Linked DNA regions of Homo sapiens: all the other regions are linked to region 2. The links come from fine-mapping of genetic effects on gene expression. A gene starts in region 2. Each other region holds a variant in brackets. All regions are shown on one strand. Distances are between the middles of the regions. Region 1 overlaps PRR5-ARHGAP8 (PRR5-ARHGAP8 readthrough). Region 2 holds the start of PRR5 (proline rich 5). Region 3 has its middle 25 kb from the start of PRR5. Region 4 holds the start of LOC124905132 (a long non-coding RNA gene).

The links. PIP is the estimated chance that this variant, and not a neighbour inherited with it, causes the effect.
Region 1: its variant is the best candidate, but not a certain one, in a credible set for the expression of PRR5 in whole blood (TOPMed, PIP 0.70).
Region 3: its variant is the best candidate, but not a certain one, in a credible set for the expression of PRR5 in whole blood (TOPMed, PIP 0.62).
Region 4: its variant is the best candidate, but not a certain one, in a credible set for the expression of PRR5 in whole blood (INTERVAL, PIP 0.88).

The regions. Positions count from the first base shown.
Region 1 is chr22:44,739,999-44,747,586 of GRCh38, forward strand. All of the region lies in intron 4 of PRR5-ARHGAP8 (PRR5-ARHGAP8 readthrough), which reads left to right. Among named protein-coding and RNA genes, the nearest start is that of ARHGAP8, 8.8 kb to the right of the region's middle. The variant C/T (reference allele first, on the strand shown) is at 4,144.
Region 2 is chr22:44,698,712-44,706,299 of GRCh38, forward strand. It overlaps PRR5 (proline rich 5), which reads left to right and starts at 3,493. Exons shown (of 8, transcript NM_181333.4): 1 at 3,493-3,897. The coding sequence starts at 3,764. PRR5-ARHGAP8 (PRR5-ARHGAP8 readthrough) reads left to right here and starts at 3,493. Exons shown (of 15, transcript NM_181334.6): 1 at 3,493-3,897. The coding sequence starts at 3,764. RefSeq lists an enhancer at 578-1,118 and a silencer at 3,367-3,776.
Region 3 is chr22:44,673,839-44,681,426 of GRCh38, forward strand. It overlaps a transcript of PRR5 not described here. Among named protein-coding and RNA genes, the nearest start is that of PRR5, 25 kb to the right of the region's middle. RefSeq lists an enhancer at 5,568-6,464. The variant A/G (reference allele first, on the strand shown) is at 3,192.
Region 4 is chr22:44,663,933-44,671,520 of GRCh38, forward strand. It overlaps LOC124905132 (a long non-coding RNA gene), which reads right to left and starts at 4,651. Exons shown (of 3, transcript XR_007068127.1): 1 at 4,399-4,651; 2 at 3,652-3,737; 3 at 1-1,067. It also overlaps a transcript of PRR5 not described here. The variant A/G (reference allele first, on the strand shown) is at 3,683.

The DNA of each region.
Region 1 (7,588 bases), 41 kb after region 2:
TGTTGACAACAGAAATGAGCAGACACGGCTTCTTAACATTTGCTGTTCTGTCTTCCACACCCTAAGGTTTGTTAAACGAGTGAAATCGGTGGTTAATTAGTTAGTGGTTGGTCTACCATCGGCATCACCGGGGTGTCCAGTGGGGTGGATTCCTCTGCATCTCCAGGGCTGGGGTTCTAGAAACTGCTTTATCGTTGTTGTCTTTTGTGTGCTTGTTGTAAGTTTTGTGCAGGATTCTCGTGAACGCTCTACCCCTTACCTCTCAAATGCACAATCTCAGGCCCTGGCCCCATCTGCTGACCCTAAATCTGCATTTCAGCCCCGCCTTGGGGTCCGTGGGCCTGCCGGGACATGTGAGCCTCACCTGCACTGTGACAGCGTCTGGGGTGGAGGTGGCACTTAGGAAAACCCAGGGTGGGTTACGATAGGCTTCCCAGTGACCCTGACTGCACCCCTGCTGAGAGCTCAGATTTGTTTGGGCGTCCGTGTGTGTGTGTGTGTGTGTGTGTGTAAGTGGGTAGGTGTGTGTGTCTGCACGCACGCACAAGTGTTTGGGGGTGTGTGTGTGCGCGCGCGCGAGAGTGGATGGGTGGGTGTGTGTGTGTGTGTGTGTGTGTGTGTGTGCAAGTATACACCACACAGCAGCTAAGCCCTGGTAGGAGGTCTCAGAGGCGGGTCCATTGGAGTGCTGATGCCCACCCCGCGTGCCCTCTCAAGCACCCACTTTGGACCCCGTGATATTCATCTCCAGAAGGAATAGCTCCGTTTCAGGAAAGTGCTGCTGGGTGGGCTGTGGCCCAGGAATCACGAGGTAGGGGGCAAACATGCTCTCTGGATGTGCTGGCCCTGGGAAGAGGAAGAGGAGGAGTCCCAAGGTGGAGATGCCTGCAGCCGAAGGCCCTCCCAGAGAAGGGAAGACTCCAGAAGAAGAGAGAGGGACTGGGAAGCGTGTAGGCCAAAGGGGTGCCCACAATAAGCGTGGGCCCATTTGTCATTTTCCATCTGACCATGAAAGTAATAGCTTACAGCCAGGCACGGTGGCTCACACCTGTGGACCTAGCACTTTGAGAGGGCAAGGTGGGTGGATTGCTTGAGCTCAGGAGTTGGAAACCAGCCTGGACAACAGGGTGAAACTCTGTCTCTATAAAAAATATTTTAAAAATTAGCCAAGTGTGGTGGCACGTGCCTGTAGTCCCAATACTCTGGAGGCCGATGTGGGAGGATCACTTGAGTCTGGGAGGTTGAGGCTGCAGTGAGTCGTGATCACGCCACTGCACTGCAGCCTGGCCAACCGAGTGAGACCCTGTCCCTGCCACAAAAAAAAAAGTTGGCCTATAATTGAGACTTCTGGGTCTATACCCAAAAGAATTGGAAGCAGGATCTCAAAGAGATATTTGCACACCCATGTTCATAGCAGCATGCTTCACAACCGCCAAAAGGTAGAAACAACAAAGTGCCCATCGTTAGCTGAATGGATATGCAACGTAGTCATCCATACAAGGGAATATTCTTCAGCCTCGGAAAAGAATGAAGTCCAAATGATAATAATAATGAAGTCCTGATACATGCTACAACATGAATAAGACTTAAAAACCTGATGTGAGGCCGGGCGCAGTGGTTCATGCCTGTAATCCCAGCACTTTGGGAGGCAGAGGCGGGCAGATCACGAGGTCAGCAGATCGAGACCATCCTGGCTAACACGGTGAAACCCCGTCTCTACTAAAAATACAAAAAATTAGCTGGGCGTGGTGGCGGGCACCTGTAGTCCCAGCTACTCGGGAGGCTGAGGCAGGAGAATGGCGTGAACCCGGGAGGCGGAGCTTGCAGTGAGCAGAGATCGTGCCACTGCACTCCAGCCTGGGTGACAGAGCGAGACTCCGTCTCAGAAAAAAAAAAAAAAAAAAAAAACCTGATGTGAGGTGAAAGAAGCCAGCCAGGAAACACCACATACTGGATGATTCCATTCCGAGATGTTCAGAATAGGCAAATCCACGGGGACAGAAAGTAGAGTGGTGGTCGCCAGACCCTGCGGGAGGGGGTTTAAGGAGTCATCGATGGGATTCGAGTTTAGTTTTGCAAGATAAATAGAGTTCTGGAGATCGGCTGCTCAGCGACATGAATGTGACTTAACACTACTCAACTGCCCACTTTATGGTGTGTATTTTACCACAGTAAACACACAAGGAAGGGGAGAGGAGGGGAGGGGAGGGGAGCCAAGGAGAGAGGGAAGGGAGGGAAGGAAGCTTCCACCTTTTGGCTGTTGTGAAGAATGTTGCTATGAACACGGGTGTACAAATATGTCTTTGAGATCCTGCTTCCAATTCTTTTAGGTATAGACCCAGAAGCCTTTTTTTTTTTTTTTTTTTTTTTTTTTTTTTTTTTTTTTGAGACGGAGTCTCACTCTGTCGCCCAGGCTGCTGGAGTGCAGTCTCACAATCTCGGCTCACTGCAGCTTCCACCTCCCGGTTTCAAATAATTCTCCTGCCTCAGCCTCCCAGGTAGCTGGGATTACAGGCGTGCACCACTACACCCAGCTAATTTTTGTATTTTTAGTAGAGACAGGGTTTCACCATGTTGGCCAGGATGGTCTCAATCTCTTGACCTCATGATCCACCTGCCTGGGCCTCCCAAAGTGCTGGTTTCACAGGCGTGAGCCACCATGCCCAGCCAACCCAGAAGTCTTAATTATAGGCCAACTTTGTTTTTTGTTTTTTGTTTTTGCAGTGGGGACAGGGTCTCCCTCTGTTGCCCAGGCTACAATGCAGTGGCATAATCACAATCATGTCTCACTGCAGCCTCAACCTCCCGACTCAAGTGATCCTCCCACCTCAGCCTCCAGAGTAGTTGGGACTACAGACACATGCCACCACACCTGGCTAATTTTTTTTTAATAAGGAAGGGAGGGAGGGAGGAAGGAAGGAAAGGAAGGAAGGGAGGGACGAAGGGAGGAAGGAGAAAGAAAGGAAAGAAAGGAAAGATAGAGAAGGAAGGAAAGGAGAGAGGAAAGGACTCCTTCCTTCCTTGCAGTCCCTGTAGCTGCTTTCCTCAGGGAGCGTGAACTGATCGTCTTGGCCCCTCTACTGAGACTGGAGTGGAGGGACACAGCACTCCATCGGGGGACCGTGGTCCCCAACTCCAGGACTGTCCAGCAGTAAAGCAGGCAGTAGCCTCAGAAACGCTGGGAGGAGTAGGGAGGATGCCAAGGCACAGGAGCCTCTGCCAGGGATGCAACTGACACAGACTGGAGATGAGCACCTAAGAATTATGATGCTCTTTCCGGTCCCCATGTAGCTGGGGGTGGCGATATGACCAGCCCTGGCCAGTGAGTTCTAAGTGGAAGTGATGCGGGGTGCTCTAGATCTGGAGGATTTCATTGCCAGACACAGGCCCCTCCAGGACTGTCCTTCCCTCTGCCACGGTGGTTGGCAGTGTCCCAGGCAAGCCTGCTCCAGCAGGTAGACGTGTGGCCTGGATAAGAAGGCCGGCTACGGTGGTGGAGGCCCCTGTGATTGGGAGATGCTTGTCGCTCGGCACAACCAGGTTTGACTTGACGCTACACTCCTTCTTCCCAGTACCCTAGAATCACGTAGTCCTTGAGTGGGGAGAAGGCCAGCATGGGATATTTCATTGTATATATTTATGTATGTCATACACCCCTCATGGGCAGAGCCAGGACCTCCAGGATCTGATCGTAAATTGGGCACTGTGTGATATTGGGCAGGTCGCCCTGTCCTCAGTTTCCCGATCTATAGCCAGGATCTCCCCAGCTATGAAATCAGTGACCAGCACTGTTTCTTTGCCTGTCTGTGCACCGTGGACTCACATGCAGAGCAGGGCTGTTAGATTGTAAACTCCAGACACCAGACATCTCTGACAAAGGAGCTCTGTGCAGATGACAAGCATCGGGCAGACGCGTACTTAATGGTTTTTGACCTGAAGGTGATAATGGCTTAATAATAAACGGATGGTTTTACCCCCAAGAACCCTTCTTCTCATTGACTGATGTGTTTGCAGAGAGCTCAGAACTGCTCTCACAGGCTGTAAAAAGCTATAAAAATGTAAACTATCATTGACATCATCTGCAAGAGGAATTTCTCATACTGACATTCCTCTTCTCACGATGGGGATTCATGTCAGCCTGTG[C/T]TTGGTAGGGGAAGAGGCCAGGGGAGTGTAAAATATGAGGATGCAGGATCAGGCGGGCTCTGATTTGCAAGCAGCCGAGGCAGATGCCAATGATCATGCAGAGAAGGAGTTTATTGAAGAATGTTGCGAGCTCCTACAGCTGTGATGAGGTGGGTGAGCCAAGCCCACTTCCAGGAACGGTGTCCCAAATCACCCCACAGGACAGTGGGCCTGATGGGAAACCGGCAGCATTGCAGCCACCGAACGGGGAAGGCACCCATCATATGGGGATGCTCCCACAGCACAGAGAGGTGCCCATCATATGGAGATGCTCCCACTGCACAGATACTCCCATTGCACAGATACTCCCACAGCACAGAGAGGTGCCCATCATATGGGGATGCTCCCACTGCACAGATACTCCCATTGCACAGATACTCCCACCGCACAGAGAGGCACCCATGATATGGGGATGCTCCCACTGCACAGATGCTCCCACGGCACAGAAAGGCACCCATCATATGGGGATGCTCCCACTGCACAGATACTCCCATTGCACAGATACTCCCACCGCACAGAGAGGCACCCATCATATGGGGATGCTCCCACTGCACAGATGCTCCCACGGCACAGAGAGGCACCCATCATATGGGGATGCTCCCACTGCACAGATACTCCCATTGCACAGATACTCCCACCGCACAGAGAGGCACCCATCATATGGGGATGCTCCCACTGCACAGATGCTCCCACGGCACAGAGAGGCACCCATCATATGGGGATGATCCCACTGCACAGATACTCCCATTGCACAGATGCTCCCACCACACAGAGAGGCGCCCATCATATGGGGATGCTCCCACTGCACAGATACTCCCATTGCACAGATGCTCCCACCGCACAGAGAGGCACCCATGATATGGGGATGCTCCCACTGCACAGATGCTCCCACCACACAGAGAGGCGCCCTTCATATGGGGATGATCCCACTGCACAGATGCTCCCACTGCACAGATGATCTCATTGCACAGATGCTCCCACTGACAGAGAGGCACCCATCATATGGGGATGCTCCCACTGCACAGATGCTCCCACGGCACAGAGAGGCGCCCATCATATGGGGATGCTCCCACTGCACAGATACTCCCGTTGCACAGATGCTCCCACCGCACAGAGAGGCGCCCATCATATGGGGATGATCCCACTGCACAGATACTCCCACCATGCAGAGAGGCTCCCATGATATGGGGATGCTCCCACTGCACAAATGTTCCCACTGCACAGATACTCCCACCACACAGAGAGGCGCCCATCATATGGGGATGATCCCACGGCACAGATGATCCCATTGCACAGATGCTACCACTGCACAGAGAGGCACCCATCATGTGGGGATACTCTTGCTGCACAGATGCTCCCCACACACAGAGATGCCCCAGTTACGCTGGACCAAACCCAACTGCCACCAGCGCCAATACCCATTGTGTTCCAGGCACTTCACTTTGTAGCCACTGTGTCCTCCCTCACCACCCAAGCTGGGCATCGCTGGGTGATGAATTCTAGGGCAGCCTCCTCTCTCAGGGTGGACATCACAATGGTGCAGTCTGTCACTGTCTGGTCCCTGGTGGCAAAGGGACCGGGTAAACCCGTTGTCAGGCCACCTTGGGGCTGTGAGATGTCTGTAAGGTCGGTAGTGCCAGTATGGTAAAGGCATTTGAGGGGTGGGCAGGTCGGTGCACAAGATCAGCGTCCACCCTGCTGTCAACCAGGGCAGCAGGAGCATGGCCACCTCAGCTGCAAATCAGGAGGGTTTCCATTATTGGACCCAAAGATCGCAGAAAACCCAGTGGAGGCAGTTTGCAGGCGGTACTAACCACACAATGCATTTGCTCTGACACAGGACCAGGGCACGTAGTAGACGGGCAGGGGTCAGGGAACCTGCCTGGGGTTCTGGGCCAGGCTACATAGGGATAAAGCAAGCCCCTTAACCGACTGGATCCCAGGATCCTGGCCCATAAAGGGAGAGGGTTGGAAGAAGATCTTCCACATCCCTTTTGCCCTAACCTGGCAGTCATACACCCAAACTGGGGGGTAGTGTTGGCTTTGTGGTTTTAATAAGGTTAAAAGCAGGCCAAGTCTTAGCTCAAGAAGCTGGCAGGCTGAGTTAATTCCGGAGAAAACAAACGGGAAGCCCAAGACCTTGGACATAGATCTTTTATTCCCTCCTCCTTGAAATTCTCCATCCCCAAGCGCTTATTAATGTGGAATTTGCTGCTTGGGGGAGAACCAACTCTCCGACTTCAGAAACATTTGTAAGAGCAAATTTAATAAAGCTAAGAATAATACCATTCAGATGTAATTCCTTTATTTTGCATGATTATTCCTTCTTTTCTATCGCAAGGCATTTGAAATGCAAGGAGTTATTGAGATAGCAACAAAAGGAAATGGCTAACTGGTTGATTACTGATTAAACAGTGCTTGGGAAAAAACAGAAGAAAGAACTTGAAAGGGGAACCAGCCTGGGTTGTACAGTTCTTTTATATTTCTTTTTCCTTTGATTATGAATGGCAGAACACACCTGCATTCTTTGCCACACAATCATTCGGTATTGTTGCTTTATTGTATGTATGTTAATATCGCTAAGCTATGGGGTGAAATTTGTATGAGATTTTCACAAAACACAAATGCAAGGAGGGTGGTATTTCCCCTGACATCTCTTAATACTGTGAAATTATTCTGCCAGCCGTAGGCCGACTGCGGGGGGAGTTTCCCTTACTCCCGTCCAAAGTCGCTTTTTAAAACAGAAACCCTGCAAATTGCCCTTCTTTCATGAGGGCCGGATCTTACATTGGTAATATAAAAGATGTTTACATTCCACAAAAGGAAAAGAGAACCCTGCACCCAGCGCCAGATGAAAACGATCCAGTGTGTGTACGTTGCTGGAATAAGACATTGTGACTTCCTTGTCATGTTTTGAGAGCAATGAAGTGTTACCACTTCAAGTCCTTCGAGAGCCGGGAAAGTATAAAATAATAACACACAAATTGTGTTGTGTTAGTTGAACAGGCCACAGGCTAGGATGGCTACGAATTCTTTGCTCAGGAATAAGGCAGCTGCTTGAGTGTTGAGAGAATGAAATGGAGGTTGTCCGTTCATGTTGTCAGAGATGTTTGAACCAAAACGACTCCATCTTGAATAGGGGCTGGGTAGAATCAGGCTGGGACCTACTGGGCTGCATTCCCAGGAGGTTAGGCATTCTTAGTCACAGGATGAGATAGGAGGTCAGCACAAGCTACAGATCACAAAGACCTTGCTGATAAGATAGCATGCAGGGCCGGGCATGGTGGCTCACAGCTGTAATCCCAGCACTTTAACAAGCCGACACGGGTGGATCACCTGAAGTCAGGAGTTCGAGAGCAGCCTGGCCAACATGGTGAAACCCCGTCTCTACTAAAAATACAAAAAT
Region 2 (7,588 bases):
GGCCAGAATCCGGGTTTCTGTGTCAATCTCTCCGTTGTAAAATGTTGTAAGATGTTGGCCGCACGCAGTTTGGTTTATTTTCCTCCGACGCTGCAGGCCACACAGAGCACACTTAGGGGCTAGACTCCGCCCTTTGTCCCCCAGTTGCCCCCTGCTCTGAGGGTTTGTGACAGCTCTGTCCCCTTGTGGCCTCTGCCTGGGGTTTCTGGCCCCGGGGCAGCCCCGCAGCTGTGCCCTCTCTGCCTGTCACGGCCCAAACCCAGAGCACTAGCACCTTTGCTTGAGCCTCCACTGCCCTCCTGGCGCTGGGCTGTTGGGTGTAGACAGATTTTACACATCTGTGGCTGGGGCCAGGGAGAGGTTATAGCTAATTCCTTAACGCTGACTAGAGATGCCTTTTTTAAAGATCTCTTTAAAATTCCTCAGCCATCCCCACCTCCGGAATTTCTGGCTGGCCGCTTCTCCCAGATGCCTACAGCATTCCCAGCCCCCTGTTTCCCTCCTCCTGCCTCCCACCTCGGGCTGCCCATTTCTCTCTGATTTCTTATCCCAAGCAGTCAGGCCTCCCTCCCTCTCTGGAGCTGGCCCCTCCTGCCAGCCAGGCCCTGCCTGTGGTCAGCAAGCTTGGGACCAGGCTGTGCTGAGCCCACAAAGCCAGTCCTCTCCTGAGAGCCAGCCTCCGGCGTGGGAAACCATTTCATCCCATCCGGATCCCTGGCGGTTCTGCTTTGCTGCGTTTACACCAGTGGCCATGACGGAGATTCTCGCTCACATCTGTCCAGCCTGGGCACTTTTATGAGGCATTTTCACCAGTGGGGTCCAATGTAATCCCTTTATTCTTATGAGATAAATGTTCATCCATCCGTTAAACCAAATATCTATGAAGCACCCAGTCTGTGCTAGGCACGGGGACTGTAGCAGTGAACAAGTTGTTACGGTTCTTGCCCTCCTGGCTTATGGCATAGGATGGAAAAAAAGTCATCGGGTGACAACAGGACGCCCCCTGAGCCTAATTGAGAGTGAAGGCGGTCAGAGACAGGGGCAACTAACTTCTCTGAAAGACGTTCTAGGGCAGGGGAGGGACCCGCAGCTGGAGGGCAAGCAGGTCTCAAAGGCCCCTCCGAGGAGTCAAGGATCTGGGCTTTATCCTCTGTTTTCATTCTTTTCAGAGACAATTCAGTACATGCTTTAGTATTTTTATATGTTTTTTGTTGTTGTTTTTGTTTTTTTTTTTACAGCAGTAAGGTAGGAAATCCTTGTCTGGCCATGAAATTTGGTTTGGGATCTAAAAGATACAGTGTTCCCGTAAGTTTGAGAGCGTGGGCTAGGCACAGTAGTTCATGCCTGTAATCCTAACACTATGGGTGGCCAAAAGTGGGAGGACTCCTTGAGTCCAGAAGTTTGAGACCAGCCTGGGCAACATAGCAAGACCTTGTCTCTATTACAAAATTTTTTAAAAATTAGCCAGGGAGCCGGGCACAGTGGTTCATTCTTGTAATCCCAGCACTTTAGGAGGCCGAGGTGGGAGGATCACCTGAGGTCAGGAGTTTAAGACCAGCCTGGCCAACATGGTGAAACCCCATCTCTACTAATAAATAAAAAAATCAGCCAGGCGTGGTGGTAGGTGCCTATAATCTCAGCTACTCACTAGATTGAGGCAGGAGAATCACTTGAACCTGGGAGGCAGAGGTTAGCAGTGAGCCATGATTGCGCCATTGCACTCCACAGGCGACAAGAGCGAAACGCCATCACACACGCAAAAAATCAGCCAGGCATGGTGGCACATGCCTTGTAGTCCCAGCTATTCAGGAGGCTAACGTGGGAGGGTTGCTTGAACCCAGGAGGTAGAGGCTGCAGTGACCACAGTGGTGCCACTGCATTCAACCTGGGCCAAAAAGTGAGACTCTGTCTCAAAAAGAAAAGAAAACGTGTACAGCACTTGACAGTTAGTTTATAAAGCACCTGTTGCTGCCTGTGGGCCCCAAGCTGCCTGTGAGATGAACCGTTCCATCCCGCTTTACTGATGAGCAAGTTTGTCTGTTTATGTCTCTGTCTCCCAAAGACGATGGTATTTATGTCTGGAACACAGGAGGTACTCAGGAGACACTGGTTGATTTGCACTAAACAAAGACTCTTCATGAGGCTCTCTTACTTTTTATTTTATTTTATTATGATGATGATGATTTTTGAGACGGAGTTTTGCTGTTGTTGCCCAGGCTGGAGTGCAGTGGCGAGATCTCAGCTCTCTGCAACCTCTGCCTCCCAGGTTCAAGCGATTCTCCTGTCTCAGCCTCCTGAGTAGCTGGGATTACGGGCATGCACCACCACGCCCAGCTAATTTTGTATTTTTAATAGAGATGGGGTTTCTCCATGTTGGCCGGGCTGGTCTTGAACTCCTGACCTCAGGTGATCCTCCCACCTCGGCCTCCCAAAGTGCTGGGATTACAGGCATGAGCCATCACCTCTCTCTTACATTTTATATGGGGCCCTCCCAGCTCCTGGAGCTGTGGCTGTCACCCCCCATCTGATGGAGGGGTCAGGTGAGCCTTGTGGGAATCCCAGAAGCTGGGGACTGGGAAGGGCCCTGTTCAAGGGGCTGGACGCTCCCTGTGGTGAAGCCCAACTCTACCATTTGTTGATTGCACAATGTTGGCACAATGTTGGGCAAGTTATTTCACTCTGTGAGCCTCAATGTCCTCAACTGGAAAATGGGGAGAAGAATAATCTCTACCTCACGGAAGTAGTTCATGTTAGTTCATGTGAAATCAGACATCTAAAAGTGCTCTGCGAAGCAGGCAGGAAGCACCGGCTGTGCCCTGCCTTCACTGGGATCACTCTGCCCCCACCACAGGGACTTGGGAAACTGCTTGGTTTTACCATCCAAGAGACCTGGGGGTGGGAGATAAGGAGCAAACCCTCTACTTCTTCAAGCCCTCACTCCAGCAAATCCTCCAGGCAGCCAGGCAATGCTGAAGTCCCTGTCCAAGGGGGTCTAGGCTGAGCCCGGGTGGAGTGGGTTCTTGGGCCAAGGTGCCTGGAGGGGACTGAAGGCCTCTACCCAAAGTCCTCATGAGAACTGGGTGGGGGAGCCTGTGTTCAGGTGAGGGGTACGGAGGCACCTCTGTGGCACAGCCTTTGCGAGGAGGGCTGTGGAGGGAGACCTCCGGGGCCGGGGTCGAAGGACATCGTGTGGGCGCGACCGCAGTGCTGGGCGGGGGGCGGGCGCTTGGGCTTGGGCCCTGCGTCCTGTGCGTGTTGGTTTCCTGTGGGCACGTGGGGCCCTCGGAAGAGGGGAGGAGGGTGAGCACGTCCTCAGAGGGCAGACCCAGCGAGGCGTCGTGGCAGCTGCGGCCGCGGAGACGCCGGCTCCGCCTCTTGCACACGCCCCCTCGCCTGAGGCCCCGCCCCGCCCGCGATGCCCCCGCCCCCTTCCCCGCCCCGCCCCCCGGGGCGCCGAGACCCGCCCCTGGGCCCGCCCCCGGGTCCGCCCCCGGCCTCCGTTTGCGCCGGGTCTGTGCTGGCCGCGCGCCTGGCGCTCCACGCTGAGCCTCTCCGTGCAATGATTAACCCGGCGGGGCGGCCGGCGCGGGACCCGAGACGGAGGCGCGGGGCCGGGGCGGGACCCCGCAGGACCGCTCGGCTTCCTGCTCTCGCCGGAGTTTCCGCGTAGAGGGCGCATCGCCGGCCCGGGGCCCTTGGTGCGGCGTGGCGCAGGGCGCGGCGTGGGGCGCGCGTGGGCGCGGCGCAGGCGGCCCGGGTCACCATGAGGACTCTCCGCAGGTTGAAGTTCATGAGTTCGCCCAGCCTCAGTGACCTGGGCAAGAGAGAGCCGGCCGCCGCCGCGGACGAGCGGGGCACGCAGCAGCGCCGGGCCTGCGCCAACGCCACCTGGAACAGGTAAGGCCGCGCCCTCCCGGCCACCCGGAGGCCCTGGAGCCGGGGGAGGGGACCCCTGAGCCGTCCGCGGGCTAGGGGCCGCCCCGAGCCAGGAACGCTGCCGAAGGCGGCGCGGCGCTTCACAGTTTGCAAAGAACTTGCCCCGCCGGAGTGGTGCGGGCCTGGAGGAAAGTTCAGTGCAGCGTGGTTCCAGAACCCAGGGAAGGGAGCGAGGCCCGCCAGCGCCCGGGGCTGGCCCAGAAGCGCCCGGCGGGTGGGCGGCGGGGTGGGCCGGGAAGCCGCGTGCCCGCCTCCTACCCGGGGTCTTTCCACGTCTCCACTGCGGTGCTCGTGACAACCTGGGAGGCTAACGGAGCAGGAAGTATTTTTCCCATTTTGCGGCTGAGCACGGGAGCCTCGGGGCTCAGTGGGTGGGTCGCGCAGGCTTCCTGTGTCTCTTTAAGCTCCCTTCGGCTTTCCCTTGAGAGGCCCCCTGTCCTCCAGCTGTCAGCAGGGGGTGCGGCAGCTGCGAGGCATTCTTTAGAGGACTCTCCTCCAGGGGTCATTCCCAGACAAGCAGGGGCCTGGGAAGCCCCTTCTCCCAGCTTTGTTTGAGGAGCAAGTCCGGGATCTGGAAAAGAGACGGTTTATTTAGTGGAACTCCCCAGCGTCTCTGCTCCCTAGGAAAATGAGAGGCAGGAGAAAGTGAGGCAGGCTGTTCGCGGGAGGCAGTGGACACTGTTCGGGGGAGGCTGTGGACACTGTTCGGGGGAGGCTGTGGACGTTGCCCCTCTCGCGCCCACACCTGGCAGTAAAATCTTGCCAGATGCTCCACCGGCTGTGGTCTTGGCCACCGGGAACCCGGCTGTCACTTGGACACACGTTATTTTCAGTTCATTGAATGCATTGTGAGCGTCATGGTGGGCTCAGGGCTGCCAGCGAGACCCTCTTCAAACGTGGTCTCTTCTGTCTCTGAGTTGCAAACTGCTAGAGGGCTGTCACATGCCTGCCTCCGTTTCCCTCTCCGTCAGTGGGTATTCGCATTCCTCCCTGTGGGGAGGGCTGGTGTGGGAACAGTGAAGGAAGGACTCCTGTTGGGAAATCTCCCTGACCCAACGACTGCACAGTGTCTTAAGAGCTGTGTTCTCCACCAGGCACGGCGGCTCACACCTGTAATCCTAGCACTTTGGGAGGCCAAGATGGGAGGATTACTTGAGCCAGGGAAGTCGAGGCTGCCATGAGCCATGATGCCACCACTGCACTCCAGCCTCGGTGACAGAGCAAGACCCTATCTCAAAAAAAAAGAAGAGCAGTGTTCTCCTCCAGTATTGAGATGAAAGCCATCTCTCTGTCCTTGAATCTCTGCCGTGATTTAGAGGAAAGAGTTAAATAGACTTATTTCAAATCCCAACTCTGCCTCTTCCCTACTCTGTGGTCTTGAGCAAGTCAGGTCCTCAATTTCCTTATCCATAAAACGGGCAGATAACAGTGCCCACCTCATGGGGCTGTTGTAGGGATGAAATTTGAACATGCAAAATAAAGCCCTCAACACAGTGCTTAGCACATAGTAAGTCCTCTGTACCTCACAGCTCAACCCCAGACTCACGCAGTGGACCAGTGTCGGGGTGTCCCTGTAGGGATGGCATTTGGAGGGCTCCACAGGAATCAGTCAGTTCCTGAGCACCCACTGACAGCCACTTGGTGAGCTCCCTCCCACCCCCGAGGTGGGGCGTCCTGCTGCGGGTCCCCAGACAGGTGGGGGCACTGGCTGGTTGCTGGCTTAGACACTGCCCTCACCCAACCTTGGGTGACCCTGGAGTGGGCTCTGAGTCTCAAGTGTCTTCTCAGAGTTCAGGGAGGCCTCAGGGGGACTCTGCCTGAGCAACCCCCGCCCCACCAGATTTCACTCAGCAGCCTGGCAGATTGCAGAGAAATGCCAGCCCCTCCCCGCGGCACCTGCAGGGCTCCAGGTCTCCCAGCCCTTAGGCCTACATCAGCTCCCACCACCCCAGGCAGCAGGGGCACGGCCATTTCCTGCACTCCTCTTATGTGCCAGGCCCCAGGCCAGCCCCGTTCACTGCCCTTAACTGACTTTGCCACTCTCCTAGCCCAGCGAGGTATTACCAGCACCCCCCACCGAGAGATGCAGAAGGGCAGAGAGAGCACCCAGGAGACATGCCCAGCTCATCCATCACCTGCACAGGATGCAGCAGAGCCTGCGCCCCAGCTCTCCTCCCCAGCAGATGTGGGAGATGGAGCCAAGAGAAGGCAAACTGGCTTCACCAGCCAAGTCCCTGAGTGGAAACTGCAGGGAGCAGGGCACCCCTTCTGGTCCCTGTCTGCATGCTCCTGCTCCTAGCGGTGCTCCCTGCCAGGGCCCCCTAGGACAACAGATCTGTGCAGGGTCGGGGACAGGCGTGTCATTCTGCAGGGCCTGGCCGTGTACTCCTCATTATGAGTCCAAGACACACCCCCTTTTATCTGTGTGACTGTATTAGCTTCCCAGAGCTGCTGTAACAAAGACCACAAACTCGGTGGCCTAAAACAGCAGAAATTTGTTCCCTCACAGTTCTGGAGCCAGAAGCTTGAAGTCCAGGTGTCGCTCCCACCAGAGGCTCTAGGGGAGGAGCTTCTTGAAGCTTCTGGTGGCTCTTTGGCTTGTGGCTGCATCACTCCAATATGTACCTCCCCATGGCTTTCATTTCCACGTCCAAATCTCCCTCTCCTTTCTCTCTCTCTATTTTTTTTCCTTTCTTGAGACGGAGTTTCACTCTTGTCCAGGCTGGAGTGCAATGGTGTGATCTCAGCTCACTGCAGCTTCTGCCTCCTGGGTTCAAGCAATTCTCCTTCCTCAGCCTCTGGAGTAGCTGGGATTACAGGCGCCCACCACCACGCCCGGCTAATTTTTTGTACTTTTAGTAGAGACGGGGTTTTGCCATGTTGGTCAGGCTAGTCTCTAACTCCTGACCTCAGGTGATCTGCCCACCTCGGCCTCCCAAAGTGCTGGGATTACAGGTGTGAGCCACCGTGCCCAGCCTCTTTTTTGTTTTCTTTTGAGACGGAATCTTGCTCTGTCACCCAGGCTGGAGTGCACTGGTGCAATCTCAGCTCACTGCAACCTCCACCTCCCGGGTTCAAGTGATTCTCCTGTCGCAGCCTCCCTAATAGCTGGGATTACAGGCGTGCACCACCATGCCCAGCTAATTTTTGTTTTTGTTTTTGAGGTGGAGTCTCACTCTGTCACCCAGGCTGGAGTGCAGTGGTGCAATCTCAGCTCATTGCATTCTCCGCCCCCACAGGTTCAAGCAATTCTCCTGCTTCAGCCTCCCAAGTAGCTGGGATTGTAGGCGCCCACTACCATGCCACCATGCCCAGCTAATTTTTGTATTTTTAGTAGAGACAGGGTTTCACCGTGTTGGCCAGGCTACTCTCAAACTCCTGACCTCTGGTGATCCGCCTGCCTCAGCCTCCGGAAGTGCTGGGATTACAGGCATGAGCCACCACACCAGGCTCCCTCCCCTTTCTCTTGTAAAAACACTAGTTATTGGATTTAGGGCCCATCCTTAGTTAAGGATCATCTCCAGGTCCTTAATTAAATACCGCTGCAAAGACCCTATTTCCATCAAGTGTAAGGCTTGCTCTGTCATGAGAACTGAGTCATTGATTGATTGATTGATTCATTCATTCATTCGTTTATTCATTCATTCATTGA
Region 3 (7,588 bases), 25 kb before region 2:
TCTGCTTCATGCCTTCCACAGGCCAAACCTGAGGCTGAGAGAGGAGTAAAATGCTCAACAAAGAGGACAGACAGTAGCTGCTCATAAAGCCTTGGGGTGGACAAATCCTCTTTCTAAGGGAAATTTTAAATATAAAACCAACATCGCCATATTGGACAGAGTCTGGAGAACGGGCTCTGATTCTGCCTGCAGCCTTTCTCCCTAAACATATTCATTTCCAGTCAATTTGTTCTGAGGTAGAAGTCCTGTTGCACAGTGTCATTGCAGCACTACACCTACAGCTCTACGGTTCTGTATCCTGCTTTTTTCTTGTTTTCTTTTCTTTTTTTTTTTTTAGACAGTGCCTTGCTCTTTTGCCCAGGCTGGAGTGCAGTGGCACAATCACCACATTCCGGGTAGCTGGGACCACAGGCACGCACCACCACACCCTGCCAGTGTTTTCGTTTGTTTTTTGTTTTTGGTTTTTTGGGTTTATTTTTATTTTTTATTTTTTGTGTGTGGAAATGAGGTTTTGCAGCCAGGCACGGTGGCTCATGCCTGTAACCCCAGCACTTTGGGAGGCCGAGATGGGTGGATCGCCTGAGGTCAAGAGTTCAAGACCAGGCCGGGTACGGTGGCTCACGCCTGTAATCCCAGCACTTTGGGAGGCTGAGGCGGGCGGATCACGAGGTCAGGAGATCGAGACCATCCTGGCTAACACGGTGAAACCCCGTCTCCACTAAAAATACAAAAATTAGCCGGGCGTGGTGGCAGGCGCCTGTAGTCCCAGCTACTAGGGAGGCTGAGGCAGGAGAATGGCGTGAACCCGGGAGGCGGAGGTTGCAGTGAGCCAAGACCGCCACTGCACTCCAGCCTGGGCGACAGAGAGAGACTCCGTCTAAAAAAAAAGAAAAAAAAATAGTTCAAGACCAGCCTGGCCAACATGGTGAAACCTAGTCTCTACTAGAAAATACAAAAATTAGCCGGGCATGGTGGCATACACCTGTAATCCCAGCTACTCAGGAGGGTGAGGCAGGAGAATTGCTTGAACCTGGGAGGCAGAGGTTGCAGTGAGCCGAGATCTCGCCACTGCACTCCAGCCCAGGTGACAGAGCAAGACGCTGTCTCAAAAAAAAAAAGAAAGAAAGAGGCTGGGCGCGGTGGCTCACGCCTGTAATCCCAGCACTTTGGGAGGCCGAGGCGGGTGGATCACGAGATCAGGAGATGGAGACCATCCTGGCTAACACGGTGAAACCCCTTCTCTACTAAAAATACAAAAAAAATTAGCCGGGCGTGGTGGCAGTCGCCTGTAGTCCCAGCTACTCAGGAGGCTGAGGCAGGAGAATGGCGTGAACCCGGGAGGCAGAGGTTGCCGTGAGCCGAGATCTCGTCACTGCACTCCAGCCCAGGTGACAGAGCAAGACGCTGTCTCAAAAAAAAAAGAAAAAAAAGAAAGAAAGAAATGGGGTTTTGCCACGTTGCCCAGGCTGGTTTTGAACTCCTAGGCTCAAACTGTCCTCCTGCCTTGGCCTCCCAAAGTGCTGGGATTACAGGCATGAGCCACCACGTCTGGCCTGTTCTGCTTTTTTCACTCGGTGTAATATCGTGAGCATCTTCCCTGTCCCTAAGCAGCCCAGGAGCTCGTGAGCAGTCATGCTGAGTTTTCAGCAGCTGCACAGTATCTGTCCCATGGCTGTTCTGTCATTTGTCTTGGAGCCCGCCTTTCAGTGGGGCCTCCACATGCACAATGACGTGGAAAGCTGTGTGACCCCAGGCAGGGCTCTCACCCTCCCTGCATCTCAGTTTCCTGCTCTGCTGTCAAATGGGAGCAAGAAGCAACCCACATCCTAGGGGTTCTGGGAGGAGTAAACGAGGAGATGGGATGTGAAGTGTCTGGCATGTGGTGGGGCTTAAAACTCGGTGGCTGTTGTTACTGTTGCTGTTGTTATTATTATTATTATTATTATTATTATTATTATTACTTAGGTCACATATCCTAATTAAATTGTGGATCCTTGCAGACAGGAGCCAGATTCTCTGCAGTCCTGTGCCCCACTCCTAGCCACGATCAGTCATGTTTATGATTTGATTCCTGATGTTCGGTTTCCCCCAAATAGAATGAGTCTCTGTGTGGGCGAGGTGCTGGGAGAACTTGATTGGCACAATCTCATTTTGTCCCCCATGAGCGGGGATCCTTAGCTCCATTGTAGAAACTGGCTCAGATGGGCAAGTTACTGAACCTGGGAAAGTGAAAAGAAAAAGAAAAATCAAAAACAAAAAAGAAGGCTGGGCGCAGTGGCTCATGTCAGTAACCCCAGCACTTTAGGAGGTCAAGGCGGGCAGATCACTTGGGCCCAGGAGTTTAAGCCAAACCTGGGCAACATAGCAAGACCCAGTCTCTATTAAAAGTACAAAAAAAATGAGTCAGCCGGGCATGGTGGCATGCACTTGTGGTCTTAGCTACTCGGGAGGCTGAGGTGGGAGGATCACCTGAGCCCGGGAGGTCAAGGCTGCAGTGAGCTGTGATTGCGCCACTGCTTTTCAGCCTGGGCAACACAGTGAGACCCTGTCTCAAAAAAAAAAAAAAAAAAAAAAAAAGAAAGAAAGAAAAGAGAAGAGAAGAAAAGAAAAGAAAAAAGAAAAAACTGGCTCAGAGAGTGTGATGGCCCTCCCCACAGTCACACAGCAGAAATGGAGGATCCAGGAATGCTTCCTAAAGGAGGCGGCAATGGCCCTGGGCCAGCAGGATGGGGGGTTCGACTGGGCCAACAGGCAGAGGGTTGGTGTTCTAGGCGGGGTGAAGAGGAGGAGGGGGGCTGTCCAAGGGGCATAGCAGTCGGAGCCCAGCACCCAACATAGGGCAGAGTGGAGTGTGGGTGGGGCTCAGGGGCGTGTGCTGAGCTTACCTGAAGTCGGCAGGGCAGGAATGAGCTGTCTGGGCTCCTGACCCCACCCTGTACCTTGGACCTGGCCAGTTCCTTCTGTCCGGGCAGGAAGGGGTGCTCTGTGGGCTTGGAGGATGCAGGCGCCTTCCTGGGGACTGCTCTGTGAGCAGTGATAAAATATTTATCAGCCAGCAGCTGGGCTTCCCTGCATAGGGTGCAGTCGGGGGCAGCTCCCACCCGAGCCTGCAGCCTGAGTTCTGCTGAGTCATGGGGGAGCCCAGTGAGCCGCCTGCCCTCAAGCTCCTGGGCCCCCTCTGCCCTTTGGCC[A/G]TGTGAACGCCTCCTAATGTGTAAGCCATTCGGCTGCCCCCAAGGCCAGGCATCCAGTGTGCTTAGTGCTGAGCAGGGTTTCAGAGCTCACCCCCAGGAGGGTGCAGACCTCAGCCAAGGTCGCAGAGCAGAGGAGACCCGTGGGCTGGGATTCCACCTGTGCCCACCCTGGCAGCATCCCACCTCCTGAGTCCTCTCGGCACCCAGCAAGGTAGGCACTCTTTGCGTCTGGTTTTAGCGGTGGGGACGCCTGGGCGTGGAGAGGGGGTGCGGCGTGTCGGGTCTCATAGCTTAGCGGCCGAGCAGAGGTTTGGCCCTGGTCTGTCTGAGTCCAAGACCCTGCTGTGTGCCCCTGCCCCGGAGGAGCCCCACTCCGTTTCAGCCCTGAATCAGGACTAGGGTGTCTGTCCGCCCTGATGTGACACAGTGCTGTGACTTTGGGTTTGTGCTTTCGATTTTTAGAGTAGCAGCAATAACAAAAAACAGTAGCAGATGGCTTCTTCCTACTGCTGCATGGGGTGGGACGAAGGGCAGGGGGTTCAGATTCTTTTGTTCACTCATTCATAAAAAACATTCTGGGTGCCCTGGCCACGGGCCAGCGCTCAAGGCTCCAGGGACCAGCGGGGGACATGTCAGATGGACCTTCCCTAGGGGAGCTTATGCCACGGTGAGGGGAGTCAGAGGGGTGGGCTCAGTGCCTGGGCCTGCTCACATGCTGTGTGACCTTGGACAGGTTGCTTCACCTCTCTGAGCCTCGGTCTCTAATTTGTGAATTCAGGATAAACTTGGCTTTTTCTCTGAGCAAGCAAGGATCACACCTGTGTCCTTATTCTTTCTCACGGCCTCACATCCACCAAAGCTTGTGGGCACGGATCATCCTTTGCACCGGCTCCAGTTTCCAGAGAGGCCCTGGCAGGCTTTGCATTGGCTCATCCAGGAAATAACCGGGAGCTGGTGCTGGGGGCCTCAAGGACCAGCTGGTTTTAAGGTGGAAGTTTTGCCTAAGGTGCTTAGAGTTCTGAAGGGAAGTGCTGGTACCCAGAGTCACGCGTGCAGCAGCTGTGAGAGGGAGCGGGCTGCATGCGGGCTCTTGATGGGAACCCTGTGGATGGTCGGGTCATCTCCAATGCCCAGTCCTGGCTGGGCCCTTGTTGCACCCGCTCACCACCTGCCCGGACATGCAGTCTGTTCCTGCTCACTCTCAGCCTTCTCTCCTCTGGGCCTTCCTCCTGCTGTTCCTATGCCTAGTCTGATTTTTTTTTGTCGTCCTTCACCTGCTGGGCTTCTGCTGGCTCTTTTTTTTTTTTTTTTTTGAGATGGAGTTTCACTCTTGTTCAGGCTGGAGTGCGATGGCGCAATCTCGGCTCACTGCAGCCTCTGCCTCCAGCAATTCTTCTGCCTCAGCCTCCCAAGTAGCTGGGATTACAGGCGCCCGCCACCACACCTGGCTTACTTTTGTATTTTTAGTGGAGATGGAGTTTCACCATGTTGGCCAGGCTGGTCTCGAACTCCCGACCTCAGGTGATCCACCCGCCTCTGCCCCCCAAAGTGCTGGGATCACAGGTGTGAGCCACCGCGCCCTGCCTGCTAGTTCTTTAAGCCGCTGCTGGAAGGCATCCTTCTCTAGAAAGTCTTCCTGGCTGCCTCCTGTTCACCGCAGGCCAGGCGGACCCACGGCCCCCTCAGTGCCATCTCACCCTGGGCTCTGCTCATGCCTTTGGGCCAGCGCTTGTCATACAGAGCTTCTCTGCCCTGTTCCCAGGTCTCCCCGACAGCCTGGGGCTGCTCTGTGTGATTCATCTCTGGGTCCCAGGGCTCAGCTGGGGGCTGGCACAGAGTGGGACCCCAGCAGCATTCGATGAATTGAGAGCACGAGTGAGCGACAGACATCAGGGCACCTGCGTTAGGGGACAGGAGGAAGCCTGGGATGATGGATGGTCAGCTGGACAGTGGAAAATTAAGATTTCTGGGGCCTTGAAAGAGACTGCCATGGGAGTCAGTGCCTTGGGGGGTCAGGAGCACTGGCCTCCAGGTCTGAGCCTCTCCCCTTGTAGCTGAGTGACCCTGAGTGACTCCCCACTCTCCTAGGCCTCAGGAGATACGTGCGGCCACCCCAGGTCCATTCTGCAAACGCAGCATTTATTCATGCGAGGGAGGCAGGCAGGAGCAGGCTTGTGTTCTTAGGATGCTCACAGTGGTGTCCCACAAACACACAGACAGAAAAAAGACCTAAATGAAATGTACCGAGATGGGGAGCAGTAATTTCTTTGGTGGTTTGTTTCTTCTTCCATCCTTTTTGTATTTTTCAAATTTTTAGAGTCCCTTCAGTGACTTCGAGCGTGCATTGAGAGCCCAGTAACACTGGGGGGCAACTGCCACAAAGACACAGCCTCAGCCAGGCGCAGTGACTCATGCCTGTAATCCCAGCACCTTGGGAGGCCAAGGCTTGTGGATCACCTGAGGTCAGGAGTTTGAGACCAGCCGGACCAACATGGAGAAACCCCATCTCTACTAAAAATACAAAAAAATTAGCTAGGCATTGTGGCGCATGCCTGTAATCCCGGCTACTCGGGAGGCTGAGGGAGGAGAAGCACTTGAACCCAGGAGGCGCGGTTGCAGTGAGCCGAGATCGCCCCATTGCACTCCAGCCTGGGCAACAAGAGCGAAACTCCATCTCAAAATAATAATAATAACAATAATAGTAAGACTCAGCCTCCCCGCTCTGGGACACTCAGTCTGATGGGGCAGGCTGGTCAGAAGACATAGAGCCATGGTGTGTTTGGAACTTTCACAGAGGGAAGCCTGGGGCTCGGGAAGCCCGGAAAAGATGCCGGCGCAGCCTGAGGGCTTGTACAGGTGCCACTGTGCCGAAGGGTGGCTACGAGGGAGGCAGGTGTATGGGTGAGGGTGAGTGCAGTGTGGCTGGAGGCTTAGGGAAAGGTGAGTAGGACGGCGAGAGACCCACGGGGAATGAGGGCTGGACCTCAGCCTGAGTGAGTGTGTTTGGTGGGGTGAGCAGTGATGTCAGTCCCTCCTGGGAGCTGCTGTGATTTGGGGCTTTCTACTTTATTCACTCAACAAACGTTTCTCAGAATGGAGGGTGCTCGGGGCCGTAGGGCACAGATACTGATGTGGCCCTTTAGGGTCACAGGGTCCAGGGTTCAAGTCCCAGCTCCACCACTATCCAGCTGTGCAACTTTTGACAGTTTGCTGTACCTCTCTGAGTCTCAGATACTTCATCTTTGAAATGGGCAGAAGAGCACCTGCCCCGTGGCTTCCTGTGAGGATGTATAGAAAATGCTGGTCCAGCTCCTGGAATGGCATGTCCCTCCCCCACCCTAAAGTGCACGTTTAGTGGAAGGAAAGGGGGGATGGGGAAGGATGGGGGATGGGGACAGAAGTGAGCATCTGAACCTAACAGGAGGGCTGGTCCCTGCCTGGTGGGGCAGCAAGGGGTCCTGCCACAGCCCAGCGAGGAGGTGGGCATCCCAGAGCCGCAGCAGTGGCAGCGCTGCCTCCATGGAGGTCCCACAGCAGGACTCGCCAGCCTTTGTCCTCCCCACCCTGGGTGCCCGACTTTCCCATGGAAGCTGCTGCATCTTCCCATGCCTGCCCACCACAGCAGGTGGGCTGGGACGTCTCTCTGAGCTGCAGATCCCCTGGTTGGGAGAGTAGGGGACGGACATCTGGCCTGAGACCCCCCCACACACACCAGGGCAGGTTCCTGGCTCCCTGCCAGAGCCTAGCTGCCTGCCTAGAGGCTCAGAGTCCCCAAGAACTCAAGGTGACACAGTGGTGGCAGTGTGTGACAGAGGAAGGAGCCAAGGTGGGATTTGAGAACCTGGGGCAGGGCAGGGCAGACCTGGGGCACAGGCTGCGGGACCCGGACAGAGCAGGGTCGGACTACAATGTGGTCTCCACATTCATGCATCCATCATGCAGCTCTCACTGGACCCTGGCATTCCAGGGCCACGATTGTCTGCCAGACTAGCACGGCAGCGGCTCTGCCTTCCTCACCCTACTGTGCTGCCAGTGGTTCCTGTGTCTCTTCTCTCTCGGCCCCTGCATCTGCAGAGCTGAGGTGCTGATCCTCCTCTCCTGGCCTCTGTGTGAGGCTCAAATGACACCAGCCCATGAAGGGCTCAGCACATGCCTGCCACATAGTAGGAGTCTGCAGGATGATGGCTGTTCACCCGGAGGGCCAGCCTTCCTTTGACTGGGTTCCTGGGAACTCTGGGAAGTGCTTTGCAAAATGTTAGTTAAAAAAAAAGTTTGGGAGGCCAGGCGCAGTGGCTTATGCCTCTAATCCCAGAACTTTGGGAGGCCGAGGCGGGCAGATCATGAGGTCAGCAGTTTGAGACCAGCCTGGCCAACATGGTGAAACCCTGTCTCTACTA
Region 4 (7,588 bases), 35 kb before region 2:
CCCATCAGAGAACTACATTTCATACAGGGCTTTAGATTCACAGAGCTCTTTTCTTAGCTGCAGGCTATAAACAAAGGCTCATTAACTATGTTTTAACGGCTCCATCCACCAATGGATAGGCAAATAAATGAAAGGATAAACATGTGAAATTAGCAAGTGCAATGGTCCCCATTGCAGGAGCAAGGAGCCTGGGGTCCCTCAAGAAGGGACTCAGCCTTAGTATTCAAGCTGCAGAGCCTGTGCCCTCTCCCTCCGATACATTGCCACGGTGCCCCCCTCGCCCTCAGGGTGTCAGGACGGTCCTGGCACGTGGTGGGTGCTGGCCACATCTGCTCACTCAGAGAAGAAGCGAAGGAAATGTGAGGTCAGGCCGCCACTGTGGCTGGGGCAGGGGCCTCACTTGAGCCTCCCAGCAGCTTCCCACAGTCTCACGTGACTGAGCAGCAGAAACACACACAGGCTGGGTTTCCTGCCAGGCCCCAGAGACATGCTCAGCTCTCACAGGGAGGAAGAGGCCAATGGGCTCGTGGTCACTGCCAGAGCTATGACAGGCACCCGCGTGCCTTTGAGGGGGTCCAGGTCTCAGCTGCCTTCTGGGTCACCTGAGGCACCTTCATGTTGACCCCAGTCCTGGGCCCCTCAGAGGAGAAGAGCTCAAAACCCTCTGAAAGCCAGCAGCATGGGCTCCAAGCCAGGGAGCCTGGGCTCAACCCTGGCTCTGTCAGGACTTGCTGTGTGGTCCTGGGCATGATGTATAACCTCTCTGAGCCTCAGTTTCCAATTCTGTAGAGTGGCAACAATAATATCTATCTGTTGGCTGGGCACGGTGGCTCACATCTGTAATCCCAGCACTTTGGGAGGCTGAGGCGGGCGGATCACGAGTTCAACAGATCAAGACCATCCTGGCCAACATGGTAAAACCCGTCTCTACTAAAAATACAAAAATTAGTTGGGCGTGGTGGTGCACACCTGTAGTCCCAGCTACTCGGGAGGCTGAGGCAGGAGAACCCCTTGAACTCAGGAGGCAGTCGTTGCAGTGAGCCGAGATCACGCTATTGCACTCCAGCCTGGTGACAGAGCGAGACTCCATCTCAATAATAATAATAATAATAATAATAATAATAATAATGATATCTATCTGTTACAGTCAGGGTCCCAGCAGAAGGCAGAGCTGACCAGGTGGTTCATGTTCACAGAGGCGTGGGCAGGTTAGGGAGAGCCAGAGGCCAGCAAAAGAGGGAAGCTGCTACCAGCCCTGGGGCTGCAGAAGGGAGGGAAGGAAATGGTGCTTCCCCCGGAAGCCAGTGGAGCTAAAGCCTGGCAGAGCATCCGGGAAAGAGCTGTGGTCAGCATGCAACCCGCAGGGACTGCAAGGGTCAGCAGAGGGCAAGAGGAGAAATGCCTCATTCTCTCCGGCTGATCTCCAGCAACTGCCTCCATGGGTCAAATGTAACCAGGTGGGGGATGCCGTCCACCCAGGTCAGCCTCAGGGAGCACAAAGTAGGCAGTGAATGGATCTGGGGAGCAGGGGGCGCCACAAATGACGTGGCCAGAACCACGCACCATGGGGTCATGTATTCATTTACTCACTGATTCTTTCAACAAATACCTATTAGCCACCTTCTAATACGTGCCAAAGACTGTTTCCAAACACCCAGAGATACTTTGGGGAAGAAAAGAGACAACTCTCCTCTCTCTCAGGGAATTCATGAATTTCTGAATAAACTACACCATAAAGAAATAACCAGCCGGGCGCCGTGGCTCACGCCTGCAATCCCAACATTTTGGGAGGCCGAGGTGGGAGGATCACCTGAGGTCAGGAGTTCAAGACCAGCCTAGCTAACATAGTGAAACCCTGTCTCCACTAAAAATACAAAAAATTAGCCAGATGTGGTGGCGCGCGCCTGTAATCCCAGCTGCTCGGGAGGCTGAGGCAGGAGAATCGCTTGAACCCAGGAGGCAGAGGTTGCAGTGAGCCAAGATTGTGCCACTGCACTCCAGGTTGGGCAACAAGAGTGAAACTCCATCAAAAAAAAAAAAAAAAAGAGAGAGAGGGAGAGAGAGAGAGAGAGAGAGAGAGAGAGAGAGAGAAAGAAATTTAATGAACATTTTTTAAAAAAAAAATCCAATTAGAAAATAGGCAAAAGACATGAACACACCTACCACTCATAGGATTTACAGATGGTAAATAAGCTCTCAAGATCGTTTTGAATCTTTAACATCAATAGTCGTTAGAGGAAGGCAAATTAAAACCATGAGATCTCACTACACACCTATCAGCATGGCAAAAATAAAACACAGGGACAAGACGAAATGCTGGTAGGGATGCAGAGAAACTGGATCACTCAAGCTTTGCTGCTGGGAAGGCAAAGTGGTACACTCTGGAAAACATTTTGGCAGTTTCTTAAAAATCTAAACATGCAACTCCCATACGACCCAGCAATTACACTCCTGGGCACTCTTCCCAGACAAATGAAAACTTATGTTCACACAAAAACCTGTACACAAATGTTTATAGCAGCTTTATTGGTAATAGCCCCAAACTGGCAATCAACCCAGATAGTCTTCGACAAGTGAATGGCTAAACAAATTATGATGCACCCATTCCATGGAATGCTGACCACTCCACAATAGCAAGGAACAAACTACTGAAACACAAAGCAACCTGGAAGAATCTTCAGGGATTTATGCTGAGTGAAAAAAGCAATCTCAAAAGGTAACATACTGTATGACTGCATTTATATAACATGCTTGAAATGATAAAATTACAGAAATGGAGAACAGATAAGTGCTTGCCAGGAGGGAGGAGGGAGGGAGATAAGCACATAAAAAGTCCACGGGGGGGTCCTTTGCTGATGGAATGTTCTGTACCTTGATGGCATCTATGTCAATATCCTGGTTGTGATATTGTAGTATAATTTTGCAAGATTTTACCAGTGGAGAAAACTGGGTCCAAGACATCTCTACTGTTTCTTATAGCTGCATGTGAATCTACAATTATCTCAAAATAAGAAAGTTTAGGCTGGGCGTGCTGCCTCACACCTGTAATCCCAGGATTTTGGGAGGCCCAGGCGGGTGGATCACCTGAGGTCAGGAGTTTGAGACCAGCCTGGCCAACATAGTGAAACCCTGTCTCTACTAAAAATACAAAAATTAGTCGGGCATGGTGGCAGGCACCTGTAGCCCCAGCTACTCAGGAGGCTGAAGCAGGAGAACCACTCGAAATCAGGAGGCAGAGGTTGCAATGAGCCAAGATGGCACCACTGCACTCCAGCCTGGGTAACAGAGCGAGACTCGGTCTCAAGAAAAAAAAAAAAGAAAGAAAGAAGGAAAGTTTAATTAGAAGTGGGGGAGGTCCTAGTGGTCACACACCAAGAGGCTGGATTAGATGACCTCAAAGGTCCCTCCAAGGCCAGGACATCCCTCTTGGCAGCACGGGGCTCAGAACAGCTCCACCTCCTTCTGGCACCTCTTGGGCCGTTTCCAGCCCCACCCCAGTACTCGATCCAGGCACTGTCTGCCCAGTCTAGATGCCACCCAGACACTTTAGGCCCCTCTGTCCAGATGCCCTCTCCTCCCTCTAGGATGCCCCATCCTGCAGTTCAGGCAGAGCTGCTCACTCCCAGGGCCCTATGGACCCCATTAGAGTACCTGGGGTCTGGCCGGGATGCTTGCTGTCCTG[A/G]AATCTGGTCACCAGGAAGGCCGGCCATCTGATCTGCCTCATGTCAACACTGTTTCTGGGGGATGAGTGGCTTAGCGTCAAACAAGCACAATGATGGAAGGGGAAAAAAAAAGCTTTACAACTGAATATGGACACAAATATTTGCACAATTGCATTCTAAAACATTAAAACAATCACTACACCAAAACACAATAACCATAACCATCACCGCCCGAATGCCCACAGCCTGGCCTCTGGTACAGGACTTGCGGCTTCTACCAGGCACTGACTGTCAATCCTTTCGGGGATTCCTGGGACAGACACCACTGCTCCCCGCCCACTGCCCCCACCACAGCCACGTACCAACGGAGAGGTACTTAAACAGGGTGAGGCTGTTTAAGTGAAGAGTGAAAAGAAGCCCTTTTCGAGACACTGGGGTGTGGGATGTGGGTTGTGGGGTGCAGGATGTGGGGTGCTGGATGTTTCCACCAGGGCAGTTCTTCTCAAACTTTACTGAACTCTGGAACCACCCAGAAGGCTTGTTAAAATAGGGGGCCCAACCCCGAGTTTTGCTTCTGTAGGTCCGGGGTGGGGCCAGGGACTCTGCACTAACGGAGGCCACACTTTGAGAACCACAGCCCTGGGCTGTTTTTGGTGCCAGGCCCATTCGTCTTCCCCTCCCTCCCCGCTCCGCCCGCGGCTGGACCCCGATCCCCGGGACAGGGACTGAGTCTGACCGTCTGATTTGTCCTCCCGGCTTCTAGCGCCCCGCTCAGGTCGGGGCTTGGGGAGGGGGCGCTCTCTGGACGTTTGCGGCCCGCCGAGGGGTGGGGTGAGGGCGTCACGGGCCGATCCGGGCCGCCGGGTGACCCGGGACGCCCCCTGCCCCGGCGGGCGCCGCCCACAGCCTGCGCAGTGCTCAGGGGCGGAGGCCGGGAGGGGGCCCAAGCGCCAGCCCCCCAGCTCCGGCGGACCCGGGTGGGCGTGCCCGCGGACCCGCTTGCCGCACTTAGGCGAGTCTCCCCTGCAGCGCCCCGAGTCCCTGGGGGCTGCGGCGGCTGCGGGCGCCCCCGCGCGGGCCCGAGGGGCGGGACGCGGCGGAGCGGGGCGGGGCGGGGCCTCCGCGGCCCCCTCCCCCGGCCCCGGGCTCCGGCTCCGGCTCCGGCTCTGGCTCTGCGCGGTGGCAGCGGCGGCGGCGGCGCGGGGACCGAGGTGAGCGGCGGCTACGGGTCCGGAGGCCCGGCCGGAGAGGGGACCGGGTGGCTGGGGTTGGGGGGCGGCACGCGCGACCCTGCGGAAGGGGGGGCCCCGGGGCGGTGCCGGCGGAGCGGCGCGCGCGTGTGTGTGCGCGCGTAGGTGCGCGCGCGCGCGACGCCGACTGCGGGGCCCTAGGGTGGGGTAGGGGTCGGACGGAATCTGCGGGGCAGGGGCGGCCCCCTTGGGTGAAGGTCCAGCCTCTCCCACCCCAGCCTCCCGGGACCTCCCGAGCTCGTTCTCTCCCAGCCTCTCTCGCTCGCCCCCCGCCCCGCCCCCTTCCCTCTATCTCTGAGTTTGTCCGCGTCTCTGTGGGTGGGTCTCCGTCCAGCCGCCCCGTGTCCCCATCTCCTTCCCCGACACCGCTCTCTCCCCATGGCAGCTCTCCCCTCCCTCGCCATTGCTCCCCCTAATAGGGCAAACAAAGATGGTCGAGGATGGGGGACCCTTCCTTTCTGAGCCCTGTCCTGGCTCAGCCTGTGGCCCCCACCGCTCTGGCCTCTGGCCTGGGCCTCCAGCCACTTCCTGGCTGGTAGCTGGCCCTGCAGAGTGGGTGGGGGCAGGTGGAGGCAGCAGGCAGACCCCGGGACAGAGACTCCAGGGCTGGAGCGCTTAGTGGTCTGTAAGGTCAGAACCTGGGGAGACACCCTCACCATCCCTTGGCAGGTGGGGATACTGGGCAGGTCTGCCTGGCCACGGGTCTGCGCCTCTGACCTAATCAGATGGATTTCTAGACCCTGTTCCCATAAGCAGAGCCTGACGCTTTCTAAGATTTTTTCCACCAGAGCCAAGGTAGAAGGCTGGGGGAGGGTCCCATGTCCAAAGGTCACAAGATGTGGTCCCAGCGACTGGGTCACTTCCTCCAAGCGGCCTCCACTTCCCTACCAGTGGCATGGGTGGGAGTGACATCTGTGGACAGAGGCCATGAGGACCGTGTGGGGTGGCCTAGCTGCAAGGTGATGAGTGATGCTCTTGGTGGGAGAGTGGTGAGTCCCATTCCCTGGACTGGATCTGGAGGCGGGAGGGCGCCTCCCTGTGGCCCCTCCGGCCTTCTGCACTCGGCGCAGCCTCCAGAATCCTGGGGGTAAGCTGGGGCTCTCCAAGTGAGGTCCTGGACCCCCAGATCATCCTCCTTGATGACAGTGCTTGATAAAATGTCAATTCCTGGTCCCTGTCCTGAGCTGGTAAGGGGGCACCAGGAATCTGCATTTTGTAAGTCCCCCATCGTCATTCTAATGCACATTCAGGTGTGAGCACCGCTTGGTGTTAACATCGGATGAGGGGGACAAAGTCATCTACCTTCCTCCGGCTGGCGGACAGCGAAGAGGACCAAGAAGGGCCCATCCTGGCGTCTACAACTTTGCTGTGTCCCTGGGCAAGCCGCTCCCCTCTTGGAGCCCAAGTCCCCCAGCAGTCAGAGGAGGTTATGGCCTCCCCAGGGACCTTTCCTGCCAAACAGTCTGGGATTCTGAGCCCTTTGTTTAAATCGTGGGGCGGGGATTGCTGTGAAGTCCGGCAGGCCTGAGTCAGGATCCCAGCTCCAGCACTGGCTGGCTGTGTGGCCCTGGACAAGTCACTTTGCTTCTCTGGTCCTTGGGTTACTCACCTGAAAACTGGCGATCATCATATTACCCCCACTCATCCACCCACAGGGGCAGTCAGGGAGGTCCAAAGAAGTGTGGTACCCCACGTCGCAAGCACACCATGGTGTGGGTGGATCGGCCGTGAGAAGGGCTGGCACTTCTGTGTCTTGGCTGTTTTAACTGGGTGGCGATGGGGATACTTGCATGGACTTAATTCCTCACCGGCAGGGAAAGCAGCCTGTGCAGAAACATTTGTGAGCTAATGGGTTTTTTGTTTCTAAGGGATGGCTTAAAAGGCCTGGGGACGGTAACACAGAACTGCCTGGCAGAGGCGGGCAGCGTGGTGTGGTGCCAGCTTTCCTGCTCACGCCCAGTAAGTCAGGGGCGCAGACACCAGGAGGGGTGGGTGACGAGAAGGAAAGAGGAACACCAGCCCCTCTCTGGGTGCCGCAAGTTGTGGACATTTGTGGATGTGAACAAAACCGTCTTCTGGGACATGTGTGAGAAGAACAGAGCTCTCGTGAGACTCCCATAGAGGAGGGGAGTCATTCATTCATTCATTCATTTACTCATTCATGAAGACCTTCCCCAGGCCCCACAGATGGCAAGGAGGGCCCCTCAAGATAGAAAAACCCAGGCAGAAACAGACAGGCTACTGATGCTGTGTGAATGTGGTGCTATCCGGGTCAGATGGCAGTGTGGGTCACCCACAGGCTCAAACAGCAGGGTCAGGGCATCCTGCTTCAAGACCCTCATCCTGAAGCCCAGAGGGGGGCCGCAGGGGGCCAGCGCTGAACAGGACCAGCCATCTCTTAGATTAGAGGCAAGAAATGTGAATCAGAATCTTGGGCCATCATGAAGACATGGTTTAGCTGAACAAAGAGGTGGCTTCTTGGTGACAAGACAGCCCTCATTTTTTATTTTAACCACATCTCTCTTTTTTCTTATGTCTTAAAATTGAATCTTGCTGGGGAGCACGTGGTGGCACGGGGGCTTGGAAGTCTGGTGAGCATATTTCTCGGTGACTTCAGAAACCCTCCGTCTCGGAGAGCAGCCCTGGTGCTGCTGCTACCCAGAGGCTTGGCTGCAG